Regions from separate parts of the Homo sapiens genome. Here regions 1, 2, 3 and 4 are each reported to be linked to region 5. Evidence: microRNA targets listed by miRTarBase, many of them from high-throughput screens and not tested one by one. Region 5 holds a microRNA gene; each other region holds the end of a gene's coding sequence.

Region 1 (3,000 bases), not on the chromosome of region 5:
GCCCATGCAGCCGCCCGGCTCAGGTGTGCGCCTCCGTGTTCGAGTCTCCTTCTCATTTCCGCGTGTCTGGAATGCCACCAGGAGCCCCAAGGCACAGCACGTGCGAGGCAGGGCTGCGGCACACACTGACCATCTGGCCTCTGAAAGGTAAGCGAGGCAGGGCTGCGGCACACACTGACCATCTGGCCTCTGGAAGGTAAGTGGGCATTTTGGTTCCCTCAGTGCAAATGTTAGACAAATTTGTTGAATGAATTAAAATCAAATTGTAGGTACTTGAGATTCTGAACTGTGGAGATTTTGAAACATTGTTTTTATTTCAACGTGCACTAAAAAAAGGACTAAGTAAAACGATGGGAGTCGAATTAAACATTCAACAAGCAACAGTACTCACTGGGCAACATTTGTGAGTCGCGCTTGAGTGCCCAGGTCACTTGTCATGGGCACAAAAGCATTTAGAGTTTCTGGAAACTGTTTGGGAGTGACCTTAACAGCCTGGGGCTGGGCCCACGAAGCACGGAAAGGCACCCCCTGAAAACACCACCATCCAGGAAGAACGGGCGCTTTGGAAGCCATTTGAGAACTGTTAATTGATTACTTTATTTCATATAAAAGTTACATTGAAAGAAGAGGTTGAAAAGTCAAGTATACTTGATTTGCACACACTTGCCAAGTCTCACAGGATTCAACCACTTGGATAATTGTTTTATTGATAACAGGATATACATATTAAAAGCCTCACACTGAAGCCCACACGCATGTCCAACCCAGACAACAATGTGCAAATGAATATGCAGAACAATCTCGGAAACTGGCGTCTCCAGGATCACCCACACTTTGTCCCTCTGGCTGTGACGCAGCTCTTCCCCCAACGGCGCACACGCTTCTGCGGTGACCAAGTCCACTTCCAAACCCCCTGCAGGTTTGCTCGCTTGGCTAGGACGGTGGCTCAGGTAGGTCCCTTTGTGGTTTTGCATCAGCAGTGGTAGAAGCCCTGATTCGGATGGGGTACAGAGTAATTAAAAACAAAAAACAGTTCACAGATGAACAGAAAGGCAAAACAATTCCCAGGAGGGAGACGCCAACTTCTCTTAGTGTGGAGGGCAAGCATAAAGGAAGACCCTCAGACTTTGTCACAGATTGCTTCTTGATGCGTCCGGCAAAAAATGTACAAACCAGGCAAGTTTAAGGCAAGGCCCCACGAGGGGAGCTGTTGGCTTTCTGGCATAATTTTAAGCTCCGCACCAAGGATCCTATTTTATCACCTGTGCCGTGGGTGGAGAAGAAAACGTAAAAGCTAACCAAAAACTCCAACAAGAGGGCGCCATCCTGGCCATTCCCGACTGGAGCGCTGCCTGCGGTGGCACAGTCGCCCCTGCCAGGGGCTGGCTGCCTCATGGTCCCCTCCCCTTCCCAGAGGTGCCCAATGGCTGGGCCCTGCCTCTCCAGTAAGGATGCCTCCCCTGCCCCACACACAGCATCGGGCTGCCCCAAGTATCAAGTCACCGAGCCGCAGCTCTGCTCTTACCTAGGTGCCATTTATACACTGCTAATTTGGCTGGAACAAAAAAAAAAAATCAGTTCCAAGGCCCTCAAGCACTCAAGATTTCTTTAAAAAATGAAAGCAGGAGGGCAACGAAGGGCCGCACAGGAACGGCTGTTCTTTGGATCGAGATGTCCTCCAACAGCAATACATTCATAGTAACCACGGGCAGGACCCCGCGGCTCTCTCCCCTCTTCCCTGAAACGTCGGTTTCTAAAAAATAGCTTGTTTGCTGTACACAGCCGGTAAATGTTACATTGCCTAAACAACACTGGCAATTTTGACACACATGCACACACGCGCGCACACGCACAGACACGCACACACACAGACTTGCTGAGAGGGTCAAAGGATGTCTCTTCCGGGGCAGCGGGGAGTGTGCCGGAAGCCACCTTCACTGTTCAGTGCACAGATCTTTTGCAACTTCAGTGCAAAGCATCGGAGCTAATCGAGACCAAAACGTCTTTCTATGTAAACGCCCTGCTGTGATCCGGGGAGTGCACTGCTGAGTGGCGGGGTCAGCAGGAGCCCCCTGAAATGACTGCTTGGAGAATCCCTGTTCACTGGATTCACTGTTTTTCTTCATGATTGGAAACAGCAGCTCAGGACCCAGGATTTGAATAACCCATGTAATAACCCGAAGTATTCTCCACAGAAGCCCCAGCTCTGCAGGAGGCCACGGCGTTTGGCTTCTTCGTGTGGCCACACACCTTTCCGTTGTTGTACAGGTGGGGACTGAGAGCCTCTTCCTCTGCCATCTGTGACTATAAATATATAAAACTCTGCTTGCTGCAAGCAATTGGTTTGTGTAGGTTCCAGTTGCCCTGTTGGTCACAGATGAGCTGTTGATATCCTTCAGACCCCAAATAAATAACTGGAAGTCTGTGAGCAAGTTTCAGTCTGATGAGCCACGCCTCACACTGAGAACTCCGGGCCACCTTTTCTGGGTCTCGTGGGCAGTCGCCTAAATCGGAAGCCCACAAAGGGATTCATCCAGAGGAGTGAGGGGGGCCCCCCAAAGACGGACTTCATCCCTTCCCATCGCAGCCTCCGCTCCCATGTGGGCTTCTCACTTTTCAATCGCTCGATCTCCTGGAAGCAGAAAGAAAAGCAAGTGGCAGCGGCTCCAGGAAGCTCGGCAGACCCCACCAAGCCTCAGAATCACACCGTGCTCAAGCACAGTGTGGGCTCGATGGAGGGTAGGTGAGTGAACTCTCCTTCCCAGCTCTGCCCCGATCCAGACCCCGTGGCCTCTGTGAGCCCAGCCCGGCTGCAGCCACGTGGCCAGCCCAGACTACCACAATGGCCCTCCCAGCCAGGCACCAACATTTGTCGCTCGTTAGTTACTGTGTACAGACATTTACTGAGCGCCACTCCAGGCCTGCAGAGCCAGGCCCTAAAGGCAGTCAGTTCCCTGAAATTTACTGACTGCACTGGGAGCTGGGAATCTGCCTGGCTCT
Region 2 (3,173 bases), not on the chromosome of region 5:
TTGAGGGGAACATATATCCCCCCGGGGAAGTTTCCCAGTGGGATGGAAATTCGCTGCCACCGGTATGGGTGGATGACTGAAGACTTGATGCAGGACTGGTTGGAAGTGGTGTGGAGACGGAGGACAGGAGCAGTGCCCAAGCAGCGAGGGATGCTGATCTTGAATGGCTTCCGGGGCCATGCCACAGATTCCGTGAAGAACTCCATGGAAAGCATGAACACTGACATGGTGATCATCCCAGGGGGTCTGACCTCACAGCTTCAGGTGCTGGATGTCGTGGTCTACAAGCCACTGAATGACAGTGTGCGGGCCCAGTACTCCAACTGGCTTCTGGCTGGGAACCTGGCGCTGAGCCCAACCGGGAATGCTAAGAAGCCACCCCTGGGCCTCTTTCTGGAGTGGGTCATGGTCGCGTGGAATAGCATCTCAAGTGAGTCCATCGTCCAAGGGTTCAAGAAGTGCCATATCTCCAGCAACTTGGAGGAGGAAGACGATGTCCTGTGGGAAATCGAGAGTGAGTTGCCAGGAGGAGGAGAACCACCAAAAGATTGTGACACCGAAAGCATGGCTGAGAGCAACTGAAGGGAAAGGGAAAGGTAACCACTCAGGAGTAGATACTCAGTGCCTTTGCTGACATGTCTGTGTTCTACAAACACCTTCTCTCCATTATTTTTCTGTTTTTAAGTTCCCTTAGAGCCTACAGTGCAGTAGTGTAGATCAGGGGTCCCCAACCCCCAGGTCACGGACCATACTGGTCCATGGCCTGTCAGGAACTGGGCTGCACAGCAGGAGGTGAGCGGCAGGTGAGCAAGCATTACCACCTGAGCTCCGCCCGCTGTCACAGCAGCGGCATTAGATTCTCATAGGAGCACAAACCCTGTTGTGAACTGCACATGTGAGGGATCTAGGTTGCAGGCTCCTCAATGCCTGAGGATCTGAGGCGGAACAGTTTCATCCCAAAGCCATCCTACCACCCACTACCCCGCACTTCCTGGGTCCCTGCAAAAATTGTCTTCCATGAAACCAGTCCCTGGTGCCAGAAAAGTTGGGGACTGCTGGTATAGATAACAGACCATTAGCATTTTCTCCTTTATATGAAACATTTATTATTTGATTTATTTGTGTCTATTTTGCTCTGTGGCTTGGACCCAGAAACACTTGTATAATAGGTGAAATGAACAAAGAATGAGCTGCCAGAACATCTGAGAGCTGTAAAGTTAAAATTATTTGGACCCAAAGAAGCATAGTCTGACGTTGTTCAGTTCACACAAAATTTTGTCTGAAAAGCCAACTTTTTTCTTTCCCTTTTAAATTATGCTGAACATTTAGGGCCAGTATGTGTAACTGACATGCTGGGACAGTTGTACTCACTTTTGCTGGCCTGTAGGACTGTGACATAGGGAGAACACTAAGTGTGTCCTCCGGGCCTCGGGTCTCAGTCCTGGAGCTATCTACAGTATGTTACCAGCGAGTAAGAATAATAGCTTCTACTTGCTTTTCCCTACAGAGTTCAGGAGTTTTAAAACGTCATCTTAGTCTCATTATGACCTTCACATGGGCTATGACAATAATTTCCTGTAGTCAGCAGATGTCTGAAGGAAGATATTTTTTAACTGAATCTTTACACCAAAAAAAGAAAATAAAACGGTGCGTATCTAGGACTCTAGTGAGGGCTGAGGACAATAGGCCTGGAATTTTCTGGGTTGAGTACACAAGAAGAACAGCTTTCAAAGGAAAGTAGGAATGGAGGCCTAACTGAGACAACACTAGTGAAATGACCCCACCCACCTACACCTCCAGAGAGGAGGAGGATGAGCATGTACAGCAGGGGGGACACCCACAAAGAACAAACAATTCATTTACCTGTTCGTTCTCATCTCCCTAATTATAAATTAAATTGATCCTCCAGACAGTGTTTTATATGAAGGAAGAAGCCACCTTTTTTACAGAGGACCTGAAACCGTCAACCATCTTCACACATTCTTTTTCTTTCTTTTAAAGTATAATTAGGTATTTCCATCTTCCTTGCTTTTTTCTCCAAATGAAATGCTAATGGGAGCCTTATTTTACCCACTTCAGCTATATAAGTCCATCTGTGTTTCAAAGAGTGACTTATGTCTCCTGCCTTGCTTCCAAATTAAATTGTACTCATATTGCTGAATCCCATTGTAATTCTGGGATCCCTGGAATTACAATGGAGCAAGAAGTTCTTACTATTACATTCAAAATCACCAAAATTGCTTTTTTTTCCCCCTTGGGTCCTCCTTGCTTTGAGAAACCCCATGAATCCAGCCTCCCTTTTCTGCTGACCCTTATATTGCCTGCATTGGATATCAAACTGAATTACATTGAGTTTCCATCTTTTCTTCATTTACCTTTTGCTTTTCCCTCTCCTTGTTAGATAACATTTTTGTGCACTTTTAATTTCCTAAGCTCCTTACCACCTCAGGGACATGATTAAAAACTTCCAGAAGAGGAAAGGAGAAAAAGCTATGCTAAGTTGCATTTATGAATGTTGGCCTGTAATATTGGTCATGAGCTTTTGCTCTTCTAGTCTGCCACAATTCTCTCTGCAGCTCCTGAGGAAGTGATGGGAGTAGACAGATTCACAGTGAACAAGAGATTTGGGAGACCAAGTGGGCATAAAACTACGTCTTGGCCTCTATTTGGAAATCTGAATGATGGAATTATTATGTTTGTTAAAAGTTATACCAAAAAGCCAAGGGTTAATTCATTTAGGTTCTCTCTGTTTTCCAGCAAATGGAACTCTGATTTAAACAGCTGGGGATGAAATTCCTCAAGATGATTATTCCTGAAAGTGTGGATGCGCTGGATGCGCAGGGAACATCAGGAAAAGGCCACGGGGCTCTGAACAGCCCCGGTCCAGACAGCAGCCTGTACATCCATCCCAGGACACAGCCCAGCCCCTCCCCACACCATACAAGGTATCAGAAAAGTCTAGGACCTATCATTTCATCAGAGACATGATCAGAAAAGAAACTGCTTCTGCCCCATTTCTTGTTTTGGAGATTACTCCATCTGTCCATCAAAAGAAACCTGTAAATATGAAAGAACAAAGGTTATTTCCTGGAGAAAAGACAATTTATTCAACACCAACGAGGGACTCATCATATGGGCACAACTCTGGTGTCCTTCTATGGAGAAAACCTCAA
Region 3 (3,173 bases), not on the chromosome of region 5:
AAGACAACTGCCAATATTTCTTTCTGGCCTATTAACAGTACATACATAGTGTTACTGCCTCAAAGAGGATTATTTTCCCAAGTGGTAAAGAAAACAAAAATATGGTGATGACTTAAATTTCTTAATTCAACTTCTGTAATGCATAGAAGCTAAATTATAAAAATATAAAATCTAAATATATTGGTATTACTAATACATGTTTAAGTGTTTCGGTTACAAAGAATCTGATCCAAGTTACTGTGCTTTACTAAGAAACCAGTGTCTAATAATGTCCAAATAAGGTCATAAATATACAGTGTCTGTAGAACAGGAATAATACATTTACATGTTATAGGAAAGATGGTAAATACTCATTTCTTTGCTTGAGTTGGAATTAACACATACACTGTACTAGAGGTATATTCCACTCTAAGACTGTGTACGCTCTTCCTTTTTCTGTACACAACTTAAAACTGTACATTTTTTTTACAAAAATTGATTTTATAGCCTATTATTTTTTTCTTAACACAATGCAGATAACATCAGGAAATTACATATTTCAAATAGATTGCCTTCAAAAGCAACTAATTAATGACAAATTTCAAACATACACTATTATTTTCAAGAATGGTGTAACTGAAAGACTCATTTTTCTATACAATCAAGCCATCCATTTCTGCATTATGAAGAGTTTAACTACTGAATTTTAATTTTATAGTTAAATATATTTGTTAGAAAAAAATAAATATACAAAAAACCTGAAAAATTTGAAATTATTTTTCAACTGCAAAATCTCAGCAATGCAGTCAAGATCTGGAAAATGGTTTACTTAATTTCACAGGAGAATTTCTGTACAAATTTAGTTACAAATGATCTAAAAAGCCCAAATGTATCACTTTTTCATTCTTCACGACAGTTAAATGACAGCTAATATTTATCCTTATCAGAAATAATTATGTAATGTATTTTGCCAAGGTTCAATTGCAGACTTTATTTTTCTACATCAGGGTCATGCTGATACATATTTTCCCCATCCTCACTTTTTAAAAATGTAGTATCTGAAAATTTTGATTACATTTTTGTACCATACCAGTCCTCAGAAAATACTACATTCTTTAAATTTTTAAAAAAATGGACAGTAATTTTTAAACAATAGAAATGGTAAGTATGTTGGTTTTTAAGGTATAAAATAACTAACTGTACCATAAACAAATAAATAACTGCTTTCCTTTTCCATAGCAGTACATATAGCAATACATTCTCCTAAGTCATATAGTTATCATTTACAATAGACAACTTAATTTTACTAATGATGCAAAAAATAATAGAATACAAGGCACAATCATTAAATGGAGTTTTTCTTTAGGGTGTATATTGACATACCAGCATGATAAGGATACCGTAAAAAGTGCAGAAAAAACACAATGTGCAATGAGACCACTGTATAAAACATGATTGCATAAAAAGTGATTTGGCCTATTTTAACCTTTAATAATTGAAAATAACCAATTTCCCCCTTAAAATTAAACTATAAAGTATGACATTTTAAAATTATTTTTATTCTACTGCTATCTAAAAAATCCTGAAAAAAGAATTTATACCTGGGTAATAGTATATAAGTATGTGTTTGTATATATATTTAATTATACCCATTTATCAATATATACACATACACACACAGACACGTTTCTTTGTAAGTCATTTTAGGCTATTAGATATGTCTAAAGTTTAGAAATGACATTAATCCAGATCAACAAGTAAACATCAAATCCCATACCTTTTTTCCTGTATTTTCCTTGAATCCTTTAACCACTTAAACATTTCCTCTAGAACATCTCTGTCAAAGGACCCACCAGTGCATTATTTTCTATTAGTACCAAAAAAAGATATATCTCAGCATAACTCTTTAATAACTTGCTCTTTAGAATATATAGCCTTTCCAATATTGAAAAGTGTATGCTGTCCTGACGTCAAAAACAGGCTTTCCACTGCACTGATTCTCAGTCTTTGGCACAATAAACAGAGATTGAGTGATATAAGAATCAAGGTCTGAAAAATTAGACAGTCAAATGTTTTCCAATGTGGATATGTTTCCCTTCATCAGTACATTTTCTCTTGTTTGGCAGAAATGGAATAAAGCAAAAGCCTCCTCTAGATACTTTGTAGATGAACATTCTATAATTAAAATTAAACTGTTTAGGGTATCAAATGGTGGAAATTTTATATTTATCTTTTAGAGGAAACATTTCTTAATTCACTGCTACTCTGTATAACATCTATCTTTTAGGGGCATGACTTGTATCAATAGAAATGTACCTCACTTGGTCAAAAATAATTCATTTTAACATGAAATGCTCTATCACTAGGAATATTATGCTCCTAAAGAGTGTAGCAGAATTGTCTTTTCTATAAATAAATCAGGAATTCATTATAGATCAATTTCTTTCGTTTCAAACAGTGAATGAAATGAATGTGAAAATGCATAACCTATCTAAGGGCAATAAATAGCAAACATTTAAAATATATATGTATATATTTATATATATATATATATATTCATTTAAAGAAGTGAAGTGTCTCGTAAGTTTGTTTTTTTTTTTTTTTTTTTTTTTGCAAATCAAATCATAACATTCCCTACTCCACCACAGCAGCAAGGAAGCAGAAGCCTTAGTTCTACTTATTCCTTAACTGTACCTGCTTTATAGATTTTGAAGTAAAATATTTTGGTACAAGTTACCAACCAATTAAATTAGCTTTTGCTTTTTCAGTCAACTTTCGGACTCGTCCTCTACTAGAAGTTCCAAAAGTTAAAGAGGTGTCTTCGAACAACAGCTGCCTTTGCTCCTCTTCAGAGTCATCCTCATTATAGAAAGCTGTCCTTCGACCTTGATTTCTAGTTCTCATGTGGGGTTCAGAGCCTTTGAGTTCTTCAAACTCTTCTTCCTCATCTATAGGATCATCTATCTTTTTTCGGTTACTTCTCCTTAACACTTTGACACTTGCAGGGACTAGGAGATCTGCATCTAATTTTTGTGTCTTCATCTTCCTTTTGGGCTTCCTACCTCCACGATTCTTTTTCTGTAACAAATCTTCCTTTACATTATTAGTTTCAGAAAGAAAATTGCATGTTGAAGAAGGAAGTACTTCATCTCTGATGGGATGCACATTATTTTGCTCTAAATCTTCTGGCTTTG
Region 4 (3,173 bases), not on the chromosome of region 5:
TGCTTTCCTTTAGTCGCTTGCGGCCAGCCCCCTGTTGTAGAAAATGCCAAGACCTTTGGAAAGATGAAACCTCGTTATGAAATCAACTCCCTGATTAGATACCACTGCAAAGATGGTTTCATTCAACGTCACCTTCCAACTATCCGGTGCTTAGGAAATGGAAGATGGGCTATACCTAAAATTACCTGCATGAACCGTAAGTGGTCCTTTAGAAAGAATGGACTACCGTGCTATAACAACTACTAGACACCTTCATTTTACGGCTGTGGTATCGGCAGTTTAGGGTATGGAGCAAGTAATATTGTGTGTTTTCTTTTTTTCTTTCTTTCCTTCCATGTAGCATCTGCATACCAAAGGACTTATTCTATGAAATACTTTAAAAATTCCTCATCAGCAAAGGACAATTCAATAAATACATCCAAACATGATCATCGTTGGAGCCGGAGGTGGCAGGAGTCGAGGCGCTGATCCCTAAAATGGCGAACATGTGTTTTCATCATTTCAGCCAAAGTCCTAACTTCCTGTGCCTTTCCTATCACCTCGAGAAGTAATTATCAGTTGGTTTGGATTTTTGGACCACCGTTCAGTCATTTTGGGTTGCCGTGCTCCCAAAACATTTTAAATGAAAGTATTGGCATTCAAAAAGACAGCAGACAAAATGAAAGAAAATGAGAGCAGAAAGTAAGCATTTCCAGCCTATCTAATTTCTTTAGTTTTCTATTTGCCTCCAGTGCAGTCCATTTCCTAATGTATACCAGCCTACTGTACTATTTAAAATGCTCAATTTCAGCACCGATGGCCATGTAAATAAGATGATTTAATGTTGATTTTAATCCTGTATATAAAATAAAAAGTCACAATGAGTTTGGGCATATTTAATGATGATTATGGAGCCTTAGAGGTCTTTAATCATTGGTTCGGCTGCTTTTATGTAGTTTAGGCTGGAAATGGTTTCACTTGCTCTTTGACTGTCAGCAAGACTGAAGATGGCTTTTCCTGGACAGCTAGAAAACACAAAATCTTGTAGGTCATTGCACCTATCTCAGCCATAGGTGCAGTTTGCTTCTACATGATGCTAAAGGCTGCGAATGGGATCCTGATGGAACTAAGGACTCCAATGTCGAACTCTTCTTTGCTGCATTCCTTTTTCTTCACTTACAAGAAAGGCCTGAATGGAGGACTTTTCTGTAACCAGGAACATTTTTTAGGGGTCAAAGTGCTAATAATTAACTCAACCAGGTCTACTTTTTAATGGCTTTCATAACACTAACTCATAAGGTTACCGATCAATGCATTTCATACGGATATAGACCTAGGGCTCTGGAGGGTGGGGGATTGTTAAAACACATGCAAAAAAAAAAAAAAAAAAAAAAAAAGAAATTTTGTATATATAACCATTTTAATCTTTTATAAAGTTTTGAATGTTCATGTATGAATGCTGCAGCTGTGAAGCATACATAAATAAATGAAGTAAGCCATACTGATTTAATTTATTGGATGTTATTTTCCCTAAGACCTGAAAATGAACATAGTATGCTAGTTATTTTTCAGTGTTAGCCTTTTACTTTCCTCACACAATTTGGAATCATATAATATAGGTACTTTGTCCCTGATTAAATAATGTGACGGATAGAATGCATCAAGTGTTTATTATGAAAAGAGTGGAAAAGTATATAGCTTTTAGCAAAAGGTGTTTGCCCATTCTAAGAAATGAGCGAATATATAGAAATAGTGTGGGCATTTCTTCCTGTTAGGTGGAGTGTATGTGTTGACATTTCTCCCCATCTCTTCCCACTCTGTTTTCTCCCCATTATTTGAATAAAGTGACTGCTGAAGATGACTTTGAATCCTTATCCACTTAATTTAATGTTTAAAGAAAAACCTGTAATGGAAAGTAAGACTCCTTCCCTAATTTCAGTTTAGAGCAACTTGAAGAAGAGTAGACAAAAAATAAAATGCACATAGAAAAAGAGAAAAAGGGCACAAAGGGATTGGCCCAATATTGATTCTTTTTTTATAAAACCTCCTTTGGCTTAGAAGGAATGACTCTAGCTACAATAATACACAGTATGTTTAAGCAGGTTCCCTTGGTTGTTGCATTAAATGTAATCCACCTTTAGGTATTTTAGAGCACAGAACAACACTGTGTTGATCTAGTAGGTTTCTATTTTTCCTTTCTCTTTACAATGCACATAATACTTTCCTGTATTTATATCATAACGTGTATAGTGTAAAATGTGAATGACTTTTTTTGTGAATGAAAATCTAAAATCTTTGTAACTTTTTATATCTGCTTTTGTTTCACCAAAGAAACCTAAAATCCTTCTTTTACTACACTGTGACTGGTCTGGTTATTTACAACTTTAAATCCTTATGTGCACCAACATTTTTACATTCTGGTTCCATCATGGAGAGCAAGCTTCTAACCTGGATGAAATGATTTTGTGGCAAGCAAAGAAATGATTATATATTTACCCGTAAAAGTTGCGATAATAATTCTGATAATGTTTTCATCTGAATACTATGTATTAATTTCAAATATGGAAACTATGCAATGGGAAAAGTGATAGCTCACATCACAGAAATCTTCCTATGAACCAAGGCAAGTATTTTACATGTAATATATCATAACAAGCTTATGAAACAGGGGTCATCATTACTGACTGATAAGGGATCGGGCATAGAGGGCTCGTTATTTGTCCAAAATCATGCAGTTAGTGTGTAGCAGAAGCAGGTAATCCCTACAGCCCACACAGAATTTCCAAGAAAAATGTAAAATATTATATCCCTGATTGTTATGCATTTAAGAGGTTATCACCCATTCAGATATCCATCCGTTCCTTCAGTTTTCATTCATTCATTATTTAAGGATTTAATGTGTGCCAGGCACCGTAATAGGCTCTGAAGATTCACCAGTGGATGCGGTAGACAGGTTTCTGCCCACATAAAGTTTTTATACTGGCTGCATCCCATGGAAATTATCATAGAACCCATTCTATTCAGTATCTTTATTGATAATCTGGAAGAACCAATACATTTTATGCTCCAAAGTTATATCAAAGATATAAAGGTCAAAGGTGAGCTGAAAATTATTTTAAGGTTCTTTCTAGAAATGTCAAAAATATACAGGGAGTTTGGCATGAATAAGTGTGGAAGAGAAGAGATTATTTTCC
Region 5 (3,173 bases):
ATGATTAATTCTATATTTCAACCTGACTGGGTCATGGAGTGCCCAGACATTTGGTCAGTCATTATTCTGGGTGTTTCTGTGAAGGTCTTTTTGGATGACATTAGCATTTAAATCAGTAGAATGAGTAAAGCAGACCACCCTCCCTAATGTGGATGGATGGGCCTGCACCAATCAGATGAAGGTTTAAATGGAACAAAAAGGCTGACTCTCCCCTAAGTTAGAGAGAATTCCTCCTGCCTGACTGCCTCCAAACTGGGGCATCTCATTTTTTTCTGGCATTGTACTCAAATTAAAACATTAGCTCTTCCTGGGTCTCAAACCTGCTGGCCTTTGGACTGGAACTACAAAATGGTTTGTTCTACTGCTTCTTTGGCCTCTGGACTTGGACTGCAACTATACCATCAGTTCTCCTGGGTCCCCAGCTTGCTGACCCATCCCCCTGCAGATCTAGGAACTCACCAGCCTCCATAGTTGCCTGAGGTTATTCCTTGCAGTATCCTTATAATAAATATCTTAAGGGATTTATTTTAAAAATAGACTTCTATAATAATTATATACATATATATTTGCTCAATCATTGTCCTGGGTGTTTCTTTGAAGGTCTTATAAGACCTGATCCAGAATCTGAGGGTGCCTGGGGTACCTGTGAAAAGTATGTCCTGTAGGTTTTTTAAGCATTTATTCCTTTTTCTCCACAAAAGGACTACAAAACACTGGGAACAAGATTTGAGGTAGGAACATGATCCTTTTTCTGCATCCTTTTCCTTTTTCTGTGAATGTCATATGTATGTGTGTGTGTGTGTGTGTGTGTGTGTATATATATATATATATATATATATATATATATATATAAAGGGATATATAAACCCCTTTGTATATGTAAAGTTTCCAGAAGTATATGTACACACATGTTCATACATATATGTTCTCATCACTTCATCCGTTCCCATAATAGTTAAGACCAGCTAAAAACATATAAATAGTTCAAATGAAAGCAAATTTGGGGTATCATATCAAACTCCACTGATATGAGATTATCATCACGGATACACAGGAATATTAAAGGGAATTTGAGTGTATCTAAGCCTTGAGGAGATCACTTCATAAGAAAGATGGTTCATGGAGTTTGGAGTTCAGCAGGGAAGGGCAGGAGGATATTTGTGCTCCCTAAAAAGAAGGCTTAAATATTGTGAGGAAAGAAGATCAGTGTAAACTTCTCAGGGGTTTATAAGGCAAGAAGTGTATTTGGGTTGTTATAGAGAGAAAAGACTAAGAGGTACAAGAGAAAAAGAAGTATCATGTTCCTACCTCAAATCTTGTTTCCAGTGTAGTCAGTCATTTTGTGGAGAAAAAGCAATAAATAATTGAAAAACCTACATGAGAGACTTTTCCCAGGCACCCTCAGATTCTGGAGCAGATCTCTCAAGAGGTACTTCAGAGAGTACCTGGAAATGGCTCATCACTAAAGGTTGGGTACCAAGGCTCAAGGGAGGGCAGTATTGTCACTGAAATTCCACTCGTCATTACCAATGCCACCACAAATGTTGTCCATGTTGCACATTACTCTACTCAGAAGGGTGCCTTACAAATATTAATCTATTAAGTAACACCTTCCTGAATAAGGCACTACACATAGTATGGCTGATGGTGGTGGCACTGACCATCTTAATAGTAACACGGGGAAACTACAGATGAGGCTATTCCCAGAGAACCTCATCCTCTAGGTTTTACCCCACAGAATTCTCTTTAAAGGGTTGTATGAGTTGACCCATCACTGAGTGGGTAGTTCTGACTTGTATCTGTTGTGCATTATTTCACTCCAAAAGGTGCAAAACATATTTCTAGACACATGCATGGCACTTCTTGAAGTGAAGCACTACACACAGCACAGCGGAAAATGTCCCTCACTCCGCCATTTCAGTCAGAATCCCAACACTCTCAGTCCACTAGGAATAAGCAGAATATAGTCAATAGATTAAAAAAAAAACAAACCCTTTTTCCTCTCCCTTTTGTCTCCTATGTCTTTCACTGAATGCTTATTAATTACTTCACCTGCTGCACATTTAATGAGACAGATTTTAGGAGAGAGAAAATTTTCCCTCTTCCTCCCAGACTTAGCATACTTCACTAAATTGTTCTGCTAATTTTCAATTTAATATAGTTGGCACATGAACAACTACTTCATATGCCTCAAAAGCCAGTCATTACATAGAAAGGACCACTCAAGTGACTCATCATATCTAGCGATTGCAGGCCAGATAGAGCTCAGTTGAAGCAGTGCTGGAGAGTTCTCTTCTTTCCAATTTGAATCTTCTTTATATCATTGGGGCCTTGGTTTGGCATCCTCTGTTCAGAGATGAAGGCCTACAGCAGCAGAAGCAGTAGTCACCACAGTCATGCACTTGCAAACCAGTGTTTAGACCAAGAAATATCTGCAACACATGTGAACACATGCATGCCACACATGCAAATAAACATGTGAACAATGAAACAAACAACCCCAAAACGAATGCTCACAAAATAGGGCAATGCAAACACAAAGACAAACACTGCATGATCTGACTCATACGCAGAGTCTAAGAAAGTTGATCTCATAGGAGTAGAGAGTAGAATGATGGTTACCAGAGTCTGGGGAAGGGAAGGGAAAGGGGGGTTGGGGAAAAATTGGTTTATGGGTACAGAGTCACAGTTAGGAGGGCTAAAAGTTCTGATGTGTTATTGTGCAGAAGAGTGATTGATTATAGTTAGTTAACAATATTTTATGGTATATTCCAAAATCACTAGAAGAGAGGGTTTTGAATGTTCTTCCCACAAAGAAGTGATGGACGTTTGAGGTAATGAAAATACTAAATCCCTGATTTGATTATTACACAATGCATGTATGTATCAAAACATCTCACTATATCTCATCAATATTTACAAATTATTATGTGTCAACTAAAAAAACAATAAAGGAGTAACAATTTTTTTTTTGAGACAGAGTTTTGCTTTTGTTGCCCAGGCTGGAGGGCAATGGCACAATCTCAGCTCACTGCAACCTCCGCCTCCTGGGTTCAAGCGATTCTCCTGCCTCAGCCTCCCACGTAGCTGGGATTACAGGCATGTGCCACCAGACCCAGCTAATTTTCTGTATTTTCTGTAGAAGCAGGGTTTCACCGTGTTGACCAGGCTGG

Evidence for each region. The annotated mature microRNA hsa-miR-507 reads UUUUGCACCUUUUGGAGUGAA and lies in region 5 at 1,814-1,834, opposite strand. An mRNA with a match to its seed (bases 2 to 7 or 8) in the 3' UTR can be bound and repressed. Matches are read on the target gene's strand: a 7mer-m8 pairs with bases 2 to 8, a 7mer-A1 pairs with bases 2 to 7 and ends in A, and an 8mer does both.
Region 1: miRTarBase lists ZDHHC7 as a target of hsa-miR-507. Seed matches in the 3' UTR shown: 7mer-A1 at 1,956-1,962, 7mer-A1 at 967-973 and 7mer-m8 at 653-659.
Region 2: miRTarBase lists POGK as a target of hsa-miR-507. The part of its 3' UTR that is shown has no 7-base or 8-base seed match.
Region 3: the mRNA of PHIP is a reported target of hsa-miR-507. Seed matches in the 3' UTR shown: 7mer-A1 at 2,588-2,594.
Region 4: the mRNA of VCAN is a reported target of hsa-miR-507. Seed matches in the 3' UTR shown: 7mer-A1 at 1,349-1,355.

What each region holds. Positions count from the first base shown.
Region 1 is chr16:84,973,888-84,976,887 of GRCh38, forward strand. It overlaps ZDHHC7 (zDHHC palmitoyltransferase 7), which reads right to left. Exons shown (of 8, transcript NM_017740.3): 8 at 288-2,632. The coding sequence ends at 2,456. Among named protein-coding and RNA genes, the nearest start is that of ZDHHC7, 36 kb to the right of the region's middle. RefSeq lists an enhancer at 2,444-3,000.
Region 2 is chr1:166,849,828-166,853,000 of GRCh38, forward strand. It overlaps POGK (pogo transposable element derived with KRAB domain), which reads left to right. Exons shown (of 6, transcript NM_017542.5): 5 at 1-596; 6 at 2,758-3,173. The coding sequence ends at 582. Among named protein-coding and RNA genes, the nearest start is that of POGK, 12 kb to the left of the region's middle.
Region 3 is chr6:78,937,981-78,941,153 of GRCh38, forward strand. PHIP (PHIP subunit of CUL4-Ring ligase complex) reads right to left here. Exons shown (of 40, transcript NM_017934.7): 40 at 1-3,173. The coding sequence ends at 2,713. It also overlaps a transcript of IRAK1BP1 not described here. Among named protein-coding and RNA genes, the nearest start is that of IRAK1BP1, 72 kb to the left of the region's middle.
Region 4 is chr5:83,579,967-83,583,139 of GRCh38, forward strand. It overlaps VCAN (versican), which reads left to right. Exons shown (of 15, transcript NM_004385.5): 14 at 14-196; 15 at 341-2,336. The coding sequence ends at 468. Among named protein-coding and RNA genes, the nearest start is that of VCAN-AS1, 19 kb to the left of the region's middle.
Region 5 is chrX:147,229,189-147,232,361 of GRCh38, forward strand. It overlaps MIR507 (microRNA 507), which reads right to left and starts at 1,889; the gene lies at 1,796-1,889. It overlaps MIR506 (microRNA 506), which reads right to left and starts at 1,655; the gene lies at 1,532-1,655. All of the region lies in intron 2 of LOC105373347 (periphilin-1), which reads left to right.